Linked DNA regions of Homo sapiens: region 2 is linked to region 1. The links come from fine-mapping of genetic effects on gene expression. A gene starts in region 1. The other region holds a variant in brackets. All regions are shown on one strand. Distances are between the middles of the regions. Region 1 holds the start of ZNF710 (zinc finger protein 710). Region 2 overlaps ZNF710 (zinc finger protein 710).

Region 1 (5,474 bases):
GGTACAGAGCTTTCTTCCTGCCTCAGTTGCTTTCAGACAATCTCTAAGGCCTTCTTCCAGCTTTGAAGTCAAAGGGCTGGGAGCAAGCACCATTAACAGCAGGCCCAGCACATTCACAGATTCCTTATTTCAACATAATGAGTCCTGCCGCGGGCTAGGCCCTGGCTAGGCCTGAGGAACGAGGGTATGGGAGGGGTCAGCAAGCCAGATTATGAGCCTGCGCCAAGCATCAGCACTGGTGGGGCCAGGGAGCTGACTTCACTTGTCTCCTCCAAGATGCGCTGGACTCCTCCTTTATTTATTTATTTACTCCCTTCTAGAAAGAAGTTGTGCTTCTTTCCAAACACAACTCTGCTAGAAATATCTCTGGGCCACAAGGCAAACCTAAAATAGAAGTGCAAAATCTCTGGTGGTCCCATTAGTCTCCCTTCCTCCAACTCAAAAACCATTCCAGACCTTGTCTGTCTCCTTGTCTCTAGACAGTGAGCCTAAAATAAGTCTCCCTGGTAGGAAATGCCTGGTTGGAATGGAAATGACCCAAGCCCTGGAAAAATGGCCCGCTGACCACACACCGTGGGCTGAGGACTCACCCAGGTATCAGCTCTGAGAAGACAAGCAAGTGAGCCCGCGTCCCACTTCAACTCACTGCAGCCCCCTCCACCAAGACACAGGCAACCAGGCCAGGCTGGAGGAAGAAAATGTGACCCAAACATCCAATTCCCCCTACCCAAAAGAAAGCAGCTCTATCCCCACGGCCCTCATGCAGGAAAGCCAGCTCCAGAAGGTCACTGGGGCACCAGGTGGGCACCTCTCTGGAGCTACAGATGACCGATCAGAGGTTCTGCTCCGAGACTGGCAGGTACCCAGCACAGTTACCCTGGCCTGAGGGTCAGCTAATAAAACCAATGAGAAAGTATAGAAAATAACATTCTCTTTAAAACAAATGAGAAAGGAATGGCCACTCTAGGTTTTCAGAAGTCAAAACCAGATAGCCCCATCGGCTTTGATCACATTAGGAATACACTGTCTCTTATCTAACGAGTTAAGAACGGTTTTCTTCTTCCCTTCTCCCACGTGGCCCCATTGGTTCTCTAGGCCCCCTGGTGAAGATGCAATAGGGACACAGACCCCCAGCCCTCTACTTGGCAGAAATGAACTTTGACTGGTTTTACTTACACGTGTACAAATGCAGGACTGAGAGGGCAGCTTCAAAGCTGGCTGAGTGACCCCCAAGAGCACAAAGTCCTTCTCCGCACACCTGTGGGGGAGTTTTGTGAATTTCCCAGATGCCCACAGGGACTAGTTATGTACACTGCAGGTCGATACCGGCCGGGAGTTTCCATTTTGCACAGCAAGAAAGGTGCTCAGGGTGCCCTTTGCAGGTGGGCACTCGGCCTGCAGCTCAAGGGTGGGCCATGACGTTGGTCCCTCACTGGATTGCCCGGCAGGCCTCCCTCAGACCCAGTAGGACGAGTACCTCGAAGAGTCCTTGTGATCCCAGCACTTTGGGAGGCCGGGGCGGGCGGATCACGAGGTCAGGAGTTTGAGACCAGCCTGGCCAATATGGTGAAACCCCGTCTCTCCTAAAAATAATTAAAAATTAAACGGGCGTGGTGGCGTGCGCCTGTAGTCCCAGCTATTGGGGAGGTTGAGGCAGGAGAATCGCTTGAACCCGGGAGACGGAGGCTGCAGTGAGCCGAGATCGCGCCACTGCACTCCAGCCTGGGCGACAGAGCAAGACTCCATATCAAGAAAAAAGAAAAGGCACCCCGGATACTGCTACGCCTTGCCCTAACCGTCTCGCAAATCCTAGAGATACATGAATGACCCTTTCAGGTTGGTTAAAATCCACACAAGCACCTCCCTGGCCTCTTAAATCTTTCCAAACTACAGCTTAGACTGGAGGGAAGCAGTTGCAGCGCCCATAAAAGTCATCTTAAAAGGCAAGTTGGAAAAAAACCCGATACGCACTAGTTAGCAAGTCCGCGGTGAAGGGGGCGGTGGCCCAAGGGCCGGATCTGCGGGATCTGTGCGCCTAGGGTGGGGAGGCTGGGGCTGCCCCGTCGGTCCCCGAGCCCGCGCGCCCACCTGGTAGCCTGAGGGCCCCGATCTGACGCTGGTGCTCACGCCCCACAGCTCCATCCAATTAGGAAAATGACCGCGAGAAGACGGAGAGAGGGCGACGAGGAGGAAGGGGGGCTGAGCCGCGGGAGGCTCAAGACGGGCCGTAGGGACCCCGCCCGCCACCCCCACCCCCACGCCCCCAGACAGCGAGCGCCGGTCCTGGGTCCCCGGCCCGCGGCGCCCCGACGCTGTCCCGGCGGAGATCCCGCGGCGCCCAGCGTGCGGCGGCCAGTGGCCCTCGGGGACGCCCCCAGCCCCGCCAGCGGCGCGCTCAGCTCTCCCCCACCCCCGGCCGGCTGGGACGCGCAACAACCCCACCCGCTCCGAGAATAAAGTTTGTGGGCAGCCGTAGGGGCGGGGCGGCGAGGGGGTGAAACTTTGAGTCCCGGGCCGGGTGTGGGGGGAGCGCACCCAGCACCGGGACACCCACGTGCGGGCCCGAGAGCCTCCGCCACCGTCGCCTCCCGGGCCTCCCGCGCCGCCGCCGCCGCCGCCGCGACGCTTTCCTTTCATTTTTGCCTCTCTCTCTCTCTCTCTCTCTCTCTCTCTCATTCGCGCGCTCTCCTCCCTCTCGCCCTCTTTCGCTCGCTCCCTCCCTCTCCCTTCCCCCTCCCCCTCCTCTCCCTCCCCCCCACCCCAGACGCCATCTCTCCCTCTTTCCCCGGCTCTCCCTCTCTCCCTCCAGCTCTCCGGCATGAGGGAATGTGGAAGTGAAAGGAAAAGACGACATGTTTGCAGCGCGGCGCGGGCCTGCGCGCGGCCGTCCCCAGGGAGAGGCGGGGGGCGGGTCGGCCGCGGCCGCAGCGACCCACCCCCGCGCCCCCCGCGCCCCCGCCGGCCGGCAGCGCGGGGCTGCGGGGCTGGGGCTGGGGCTGGGGCGGGGGGCCGCGCGGGACACTCACCCTGGGTCCGGGCGCGGCTCCTGCGCTGGGGCCCTCGGCGGGCCGGGCCGGGCCGGGCCGGGGGCTCCTGGCTGCCCACCGCCCGGGCTGCTGCTGTGCGCCCGCCGCCCGCCTCCACGCGCGCCCGCCGCCTGCTCCTGCCGCCCTCCCTCCGGCTCCTCTCTTTCTCTCTCTCCCCCCTCCTCTCGCTCGCTCTCTCGCTCGCGCTCTCTCCCTCCCTGGAAGAAGGGAATGAGGCAGGGCTGACGTGAAGGGATGCAAAACAGCTCCTCCTAAGCCAGCTCGCAGAGGAAGAGAGAGACAGAAAAGCAGCCCTTTTATCTCTCTTTTGTTTTCTCACTTCCTTCCACCCCCAACACCTCCCTCTTGTCAGCCCAAGTTTTCTTTTCTCTTTCTACCGCAGAGGATTTTTCTTCCTTTCTTTCTCTTTCTTTCGGTTCAACTCTCCCACTCGAATTGAAAGCCTGAAGGGTTTTCTTTCTCCTGTTTTTTTCTTCCCTCTTTTCTTCCTTCTTCCTCCTTTCTTATTTCTCTAAAAGGGTTTTGTTTGCTGTGGGAGTTTCGTTTGAAAATCAAGTCACGCCTTTTTTCCTTCTTTTCTTTCTTTCTCTCTCTCTCTTTTTTTTTTCTCCTCTCAGCAGAAAAGGGGAACAAAGATTAACTGAAGCGGGGAAGAGGCAGACCTCGCTTGGAAATGGGGGGCCCGGCCCTGTCCGGTACAAAGGGGGCCCGGGGGCCCTGCGCCCCGCCCCCCCCAAGGGAAGCCAGGGGCGTCCTCTGGAGAGGAGAGCCGGTGCGGGTGTTGGGGCACGGGTGCGGCTCCTGGGTGCCGGTTCCTTCCCAAGTGCGAGCGAGGGCCGCCGAGCCCGCCCCTCCCCAGCCAGAGGTGGCAAGCTGGGTGTGTGTGCTTCACTTATGTATTTTTAAAGTAGGCAGATGGGCCTGGAACAAACATCCCCGCAGAGCACTGAACAGCAAAAGCCTTTAAACAGCTGTTAGCAGAGCCCTGGACGGCCTGACTCGAGGGAGCGGCGCGGGCTCCGAGCGCCAGGGCCCGGGTGGAGAAGGGGCTCAGGGCAGCTGCTGGGATCGGCGGGCTGGCGGGGTCCCCGAGCCCAGGGCCTGGGCCTCGGCCCCGGGGCGCACTGCTGGGGGGCGCCGAGGCGTGGTCGCTGGCAGCGCGGCCGTCAGGTCCCTCTCGGCTCCCTGAGGGGCCGCGGGGTTTGGCACAGCCTCGCCGCCCTCCAGCTCCGGCGCAGGCCGGACACCAGGCCTCCAACCTCCAGAACACCCGCCACTCCGAGCCGTTTCTCGACTGCAACGCAGGGCGGGTCCGGAGCCCTCGGACAGAGCCGGGCAGTGCCGCCAGGAAGGGTCAATTATTCATGGGGCGCCCGGGCGTGCTCCCAAGACCTGCTCTGTCCTCGGGTTCTCCGGAGGAGTGGGGAGAAGACGGGGGAAAGTTCCCAAAGCAAAGTTGGTCACATTTGTCATTTTCCCAAGTAAGTATTGAGCACCTGCTGGATGCCGGGCCCTCGGACTGGGGCTGCAGCCAGGGGGAGAAACGTGAGGTCTCGGTGGGCCCCGAGAGCAAACTCAGGGAACAATGCAAGGGAAGCTGCGGCTCAGGACCAGGTCACCGGGAGGAAGGAAAGCCTGGATCCTCTCCCCTCCCTCTTCCCTTCCTTCCCTTCCCTTCCTTCCTCCCGGCTGCATCTCCTTGGCTCCACCCCTTCTCCTCATCAATTCCTCCCACACTTCCCTGCTCTCCCTGGCTTTTCACTGAAGGGTCCCTTCTCCCAGGGAGGAGCAGATGCTGAGCCCCATTGTCTCTCCCCCAGTGACTGCAGCCTCCCGGGGACACGACCTGCCACTCCTCACCCCTCCCCCCAGCCCTGAGCCCTGGGCCTTTAGAAACGAGAGCCCCAAGGCCACGGCCCCTCGCCCCACCCTAAACCAGCTCCTGGTGCTCTGAGCTATGACTCCAGTCACTCAGAACACATTTGTCTCTGACGAGGAGTGAGGAAACAGTAGCCTGAGAGTTTGGTTCAACAAGAAGGACACCATGGTCTTTTAACATCAGCACCCTGAGCCCCCAATGACCCCAGGGCCTTTGCCCAGGTCTGCAGGAAACCACATTTCCGTCATCACTTGCAGCCTCCCACTTAGTACACCCAAGCTGCATCCTCCAAAAAAGCAGAATGCAGCTCTTAGAGCCAAGCATGCACTTAACAAATGCCTACTGAGTACCTACCCCGTGCCGGCGAAGGTGCTGGCTGCTGAGGACCGAATCATCAGCAAGACGCAGTCCTTGCTTTGGCCTTTGGCTTTGCAGGCGAAGGAGCAAGAAAAGAAGACAGCAACCTCAGTGCCATGCGATACAGGCAAGAGTGAACCAAGAAAGCTCCTAAGAGGGTGCTTGGACTAAGGTGGTCAGGTGTGGCTTCC
Region 2 (5,255 bases), 74 kb before region 1:
TGGCTGGCCCCCAAAGTGCATTCTGGCCCTGTCCGCTGAGATGTGCGTGTTTTGGGGGAAACAGACCCCAGGCTGGGGGCAGCCCTGACAGGTCTAAGGCAGACTTTCTCAACCTTGGCACTTAGGGCCATAATTCTTTGTTGTGAGGCTGTCCTGTGCATTGTAGGATGTTTGACAGCATCCCTGGCCTCTACCCATGAGATGCCAGTAGCATCACCCCAGTTGTGACAACCATAAATGTCTCCAAACATGGCCAACTGTCACCTGGAAGACAAACTCATGCTCAGTTGAGAACCACTGGTCTAAGAGTAATCCCATCCCTTCCCAATTAGTGGTTCAGGAATAGGCACGTGACCCAATCCTGTTGAATGGGTCATGAGGAAAGGCCTGCTAGTAAGTTCTTAGCACCTTCTCATTGGTGTCAGAGAGCTAAGGGGAGCAGGCTGTCACTCTTCCACTGGATGTGAACAAGGAAGCACACACCCTGACGGCCACTGGCAGCCATCTTGTGACCATGAGGATATTCGCAGCTAATGCTGTGGACAGAGGAAGCCTCACCCTGATGTCACTGTTGGCAAGCTGAATCAGCCAGCTCTGAAGAGGGCCTAGACTTTGAACCATTTCTTTTCTCTTCTTTTTTTTTTTTTTTTTGAGACCGAGTTTCGCTCTTGTTGCCCAGGCTGGAGTGCAATGGTGCAATCTTGGCTCATCACAACCTCCACCTCCTGGGGTCAAGCGATTCTCCTGCCTCAGCCTCCCAAGTAGCTGAGATTACAGGCATGCGCCACCATACCCGGCTAATTTTTTTTGTATTTTTAGTAGAGACGGGGTTTCTCCATGTTGGTCAGGCTGGTCTTGAACTCCCAATCTCAGGTGATCCGCCTGCCTCGGCCTCTCAAAGTGCTGGGATTACAGGCGTGAGCCACTGCGCCTGGCCCCATTTCTTTTCTTTTTTTGACAAGGTCTTGCTCTATTGCCAAGGCTGGGGTGCAGTGGTGCAATCATGGCTCACTGCAGCCTCAAACTCAAAGTGATCCTCCCAACTCAACCTCCCGAGTAGCTGGGACGATAGGTGTGCGCTACCACACCTGGTCTTGAGCCATTTCTTAATGGATTTCCTTATTGTTTAGGCCAGTCTGAATGGGTATCTGTTACTTGTGCCTGTAGCATCTAACCCACTGTGAGTCTTCCGGACTTTATAAAACAAGGTCACTTGACCCATATCTTATAGATTTGGGCTGTTTCTTCCCTCAGTCCTAGTGCCACACCCTCATGTTACACAGCTGGTTTCAAAAACAAGCTAAATAAAGCACCTTGGGGGCCAGGCGCAGTGGCTCATGCCTGTAATCCCAGCACTTTGGGAGGCCAAGGCAGGCAGATCATGAGGTCAGGAGATCAAGACCATCCTGGCTAACACCGTGAAACCCCGTCTCTACTAAAAATACAAAAAAATTAGCCGGGCGTGGTGGCAGGCGCCTGTAGTCCCAGCTACTTGGGAGGCTGAGGCAGGAGAATGGCGTGAACCCAGGAGGTGGAGCTTGCAGTGAGCCGAGATCGCGCCACTGCACTCCAGCCTGGGTGAAAGAGCAAGACTCCGTCTCAAAAAAAAAAAAAAAAAAAAAAGCACCTTGAGAAAATTTCTACTTGTGGATCTCTGTACACCGTCCCCATTTTGTTTATTAAGTCTATGGTCCCGTCCTGTGGGCCCCAGAGAATAGTCTGTAGCATTTTTTATAAGGACATTGATCCACCTCCCCAAATGACAGCCCCATAGTTACTAGATCGTTCTGTCTAGAATGTATGCTGCCTTCCTTCTGCATACGCATCAAGCCTGGGCTTCCCAGACCAAGGCTGTATGAGGGAGGTGGGGACCTGGAGCCCAGTCATTCCAGGGCCAATCGCTTCCTTCTGTCATCTGGTACGGCCAGGAATAGAGGAATTCTAAGCATCCCTGGTGACTGAGCTCATATAGAAAGAGGTTGTGCCTTAACCACCCCGAGGAACAAGGTGTACAGGGACAGTCTTTTTAAAAAATCTTGTTTGGGTGGTGGGATGGGGGTGGGGCGATTTCTGGTAAAAACTGGAAAACCTGCTAAATGAATGCTTTTTTTTTTTTTTTTTTGAGTCAAAGTCTCACTCTGTCACCCAGGCTGGAGTGCAGTGACACAATCTCGGCTCACTGCAACCTCTGCCTCCCAGGTTCAAGTGATTCTCCTGCCTCAGCCTCCCGAGTAGCTGGGATTACACGCATGTGCCAACACGCCCAGCTAATTTTTGTATTTTTAGTAGAGACGGGGTTTCATCATGTTAGCCAGGCTGGTCTCGAACTCCCAACCTCAGGTGATCTGCCCACCTTGGGATTTGCCTCCCAAAGTGTTGGGATTATAGGCGTGAGCCAGTACGCCCAGCCTAACAAATTCTAAAAGAGCTGTAACACTGACAGTCTCTTCATGGTCCCAGTTATTTCCAAAAGGGCACGTTCTGCTCTGGTTCCTTCTGGTGGGTTAGCAACAGGGCAGATCCACTAGAATACAGCTCTCAAAATCTACTGCACATGGACTCACCCAAAGTGCTTTACAAAAATCCTGATCCCAGGCCACATTCCAGATCACTTACATTTGAACCTCAGGTCCAAACTCAGGCATCAGCATTTAAAACATTCCTCAGGTGACTCCCAACATGCAGCTGATTTGCCAGCCAGCCCTCTGCAGTCTGGATCAAAGGTTCTCAACATGAGGTCCCTGAACCAGCGGCTGCTTTGCTAAGAACTGGGAACTTGTGGGAAAGGCAGCGTCTCAGACCCCACCCCAGATCTACTGAATCAGAAACTCTGGGGGTGGGGCCAGCACTTTGTTTCAACAAGCCCTCCAGGAGACTCTGAGGCACTAGTCTGGTCCAGTGGGTCTCAAACTTGACTGCAACAAATGGCCCAGAGATCTTTTTGAAGTGTAGAGTCTGACTCAGCAGGTGTGGGTGGAGCTGAGAGGCCAGCAAGATCCCAGGTGGGGCCGAGG[C/A]TGCTCATCCTCCTACCACATTTTGAGTAGCAAGGAGCTACCAAGAGCAGCCGACGGGGTTTCATTCTCGTCTACTGGAAGCAACCTTAATAGACAACTGAAAAACAAAACAAAACAACTGAGATACCTGTTTCTGCCAGAAAACCCAGGCCATTCACTGGTCAGCTGTTCCAAAACCAGAGTTAAGCTACTGCAGCTGTTCCCGCGTGCCTGCCTGCATTCCAGTAAATAATCCCACGTGGCAAGTCAGCTCACCTGGTTACTGCCAAAGCATGTTCCCAGCTGGTGTGACTCAGAGGCACACCAGAATTTCTTTATTATAATTTGGCGATAGGGTCTTGCTTTGCCACGCAGGCTGGAGTGCCGTGGTCCGATCACAGTTCACTACAGCCTTGAACTCCTGGGCTCAAGTGATCTTCCTGCCTTAGACTCCCAAGTAGCTGAGATTATAGGCACACGCCACCACACCCAGCTAATTTAAAAATATTTTTGTAGAGACCAGGTCTCACTATGTTGCCTGGTTTGGTATCAAACTCCTGGCCTTAAGGGATCCTCCTGCCTCGGCCTCCCAAAGTGCCAGGATTATAGGTGTGAGCCATCATGCCCAGCCAGAGCACCAGAAATAGCTCCCAACTGTAGAAGGAGCCTCCCTGTAGCGCTGTTGGCTCCCTCCTTCCTGTGGAGTCTCCACAGCAGTCCCTCCCCACCATGAGGCCAGAGAGGCTAACAGCTTTGCTGTCACCCAACAGAAATGCTTTAAGTACTGACCACTGCTGGAGGGAAAGGCTACCGCTAACACTTGGGATGTTTTCTGACAGCCTCTGAAACTTCTACGAACTGCTGAGGCATAGGATCCTCTCCTAAAATTTCTCCCAGATCTTAACGTCAGGGCTGTCTGGCCCTTTCATGAGTATGTGGGTTATAGTCTCTGGCAGGCACTTGTGAAGAGTGTGACTGATTGACACTTTTTTGCCTTGGTTGCTGGGAAGCTCAGATCTCCCCTCTGCATGTCCCTTGCTTAGGACCTCCCATGGTGTACTTGGAGTTGGGACCTCACCTGGCTCTCCCTTATCTTTCCGGCTGCCATTTTTTCCCCTTTCTAACTTTCTTTCCCATACACTTATTTGAAATATTATCTCACGGTAACGAAATAAAGTGTCTGTCACCTCCTGCTGTGTTGTCATCTTGCATGAGCTATCTAAGTTCTCTGTTCTTCAGTTTCTGCATCTGTAAAACGATGACAATGACAGAGCCAACCTCGCTTTGAGGATCACATGAGTTAATAAAGGCCTGGCACACAGTTAGCACTCAATAAATGTTAGTTATGATTTTTATTATATTGTTTACGTGATCTCATTTAAGTCCTTTGAAGAAGACATAAATATCCCATCGTTATTGTCATCATGGCCTTCCAGGGTACCCCCCTTCCAGACCTGAGCCCACCCCAACGAAGTCTCAGCCTTGGCCAGCCTCCCCACTCCTCTAACTGGGCAGGAGGCTCCTGAGTGCGTCATGTTGGTATCATTCCTGCTCTGTCCATTGCGCTTGGCCCACCCACCTTGGCTGTCCAGGCCGATGTCCATGACGCCATGCTTGACCTTCATGTGCCGGCTCAGGTTGCCCTTGAGATTAAACTTGCTGGAGCAGTAGGGGCACTTGAAGGGCTTGCTGCCGGCGTGCAGGTGCATGTGGCCCAGCAGGTTGTACATGCGGTTGAAGGACTTCCCGCACACCTAGAACACATCAACCCGGTGTCCTGAGCCTGTGGGGAACCTGCTTTCCCCGGACCCCAGCCCACTCCCACCTCTATGGCTGGGCCAGAATCCTATTCTTTTGTTTTTTTTTTTTGTTTTTTTTTTGAGACAGACTCTCACTCTGTTGTCCAGGCTGGAGTGCAGTGGCATGATCTCGGCTCACTGCAACTTCTGCCTCCTGGGTTCAAGAGATTCTCCTGCCTTAGTCTCCCGAGTAGCTGGGACTACAGGCACGTGCCACCACGCCCAGCTAATTTTTTGTATGTTTAGTAGAGAAGGGGTTTCACCACATTGGCTAGGCTGGTCTCGAACTCCTTACCTCAAATGATCCACCCACCTCAGCCTCCCAAAATGCTGGGATTACAGGCATGCACCACCATGCCTGGCCCAGAATCCTGTTCTTTATGGACAGTTCTCTCTTTATGCTTTTCCATGTGACCCCAGACACCCGAGAGACAGGGACACAAGCCATCCATTGGGGGTCACT

What was found.
Region 2: its variant is fine-mapped to the expression of ZNF710 in whole blood (TOPMed, PIP above 0.99).

The regions. Positions count from the first base shown.
Region 1 is chr15:89,999,167-90,004,640 of GRCh38, reverse strand. ZNF710 (zinc finger protein 710) reads right to left here and starts at 3,317. Exons shown (of 5, transcript NM_198526.4): 1 at 3,027-3,317. RefSeq lists enhancers at 968-1,735, 1,736-2,504 and silencers at 2,204-2,703, 3,119-3,287, 3,696-3,865.
Region 2 is chr15:90,073,608-90,078,862 of GRCh38, reverse strand. ZNF710 (zinc finger protein 710) reads right to left here. Exons shown (of 5, transcript NM_198526.4): 4 at 4,573-4,747. ZNF710-AS1 (ZNF710 antisense RNA 1) reads left to right here. Exons shown (of 2, transcript NR_146321.1): 2 at 3,950-4,351. Among named protein-coding and RNA genes, the nearest start is that of ZNF710-AS1, 6.0 kb to the left of the region's middle. The variant C/A (reference allele first, on the strand shown) is at 3,015.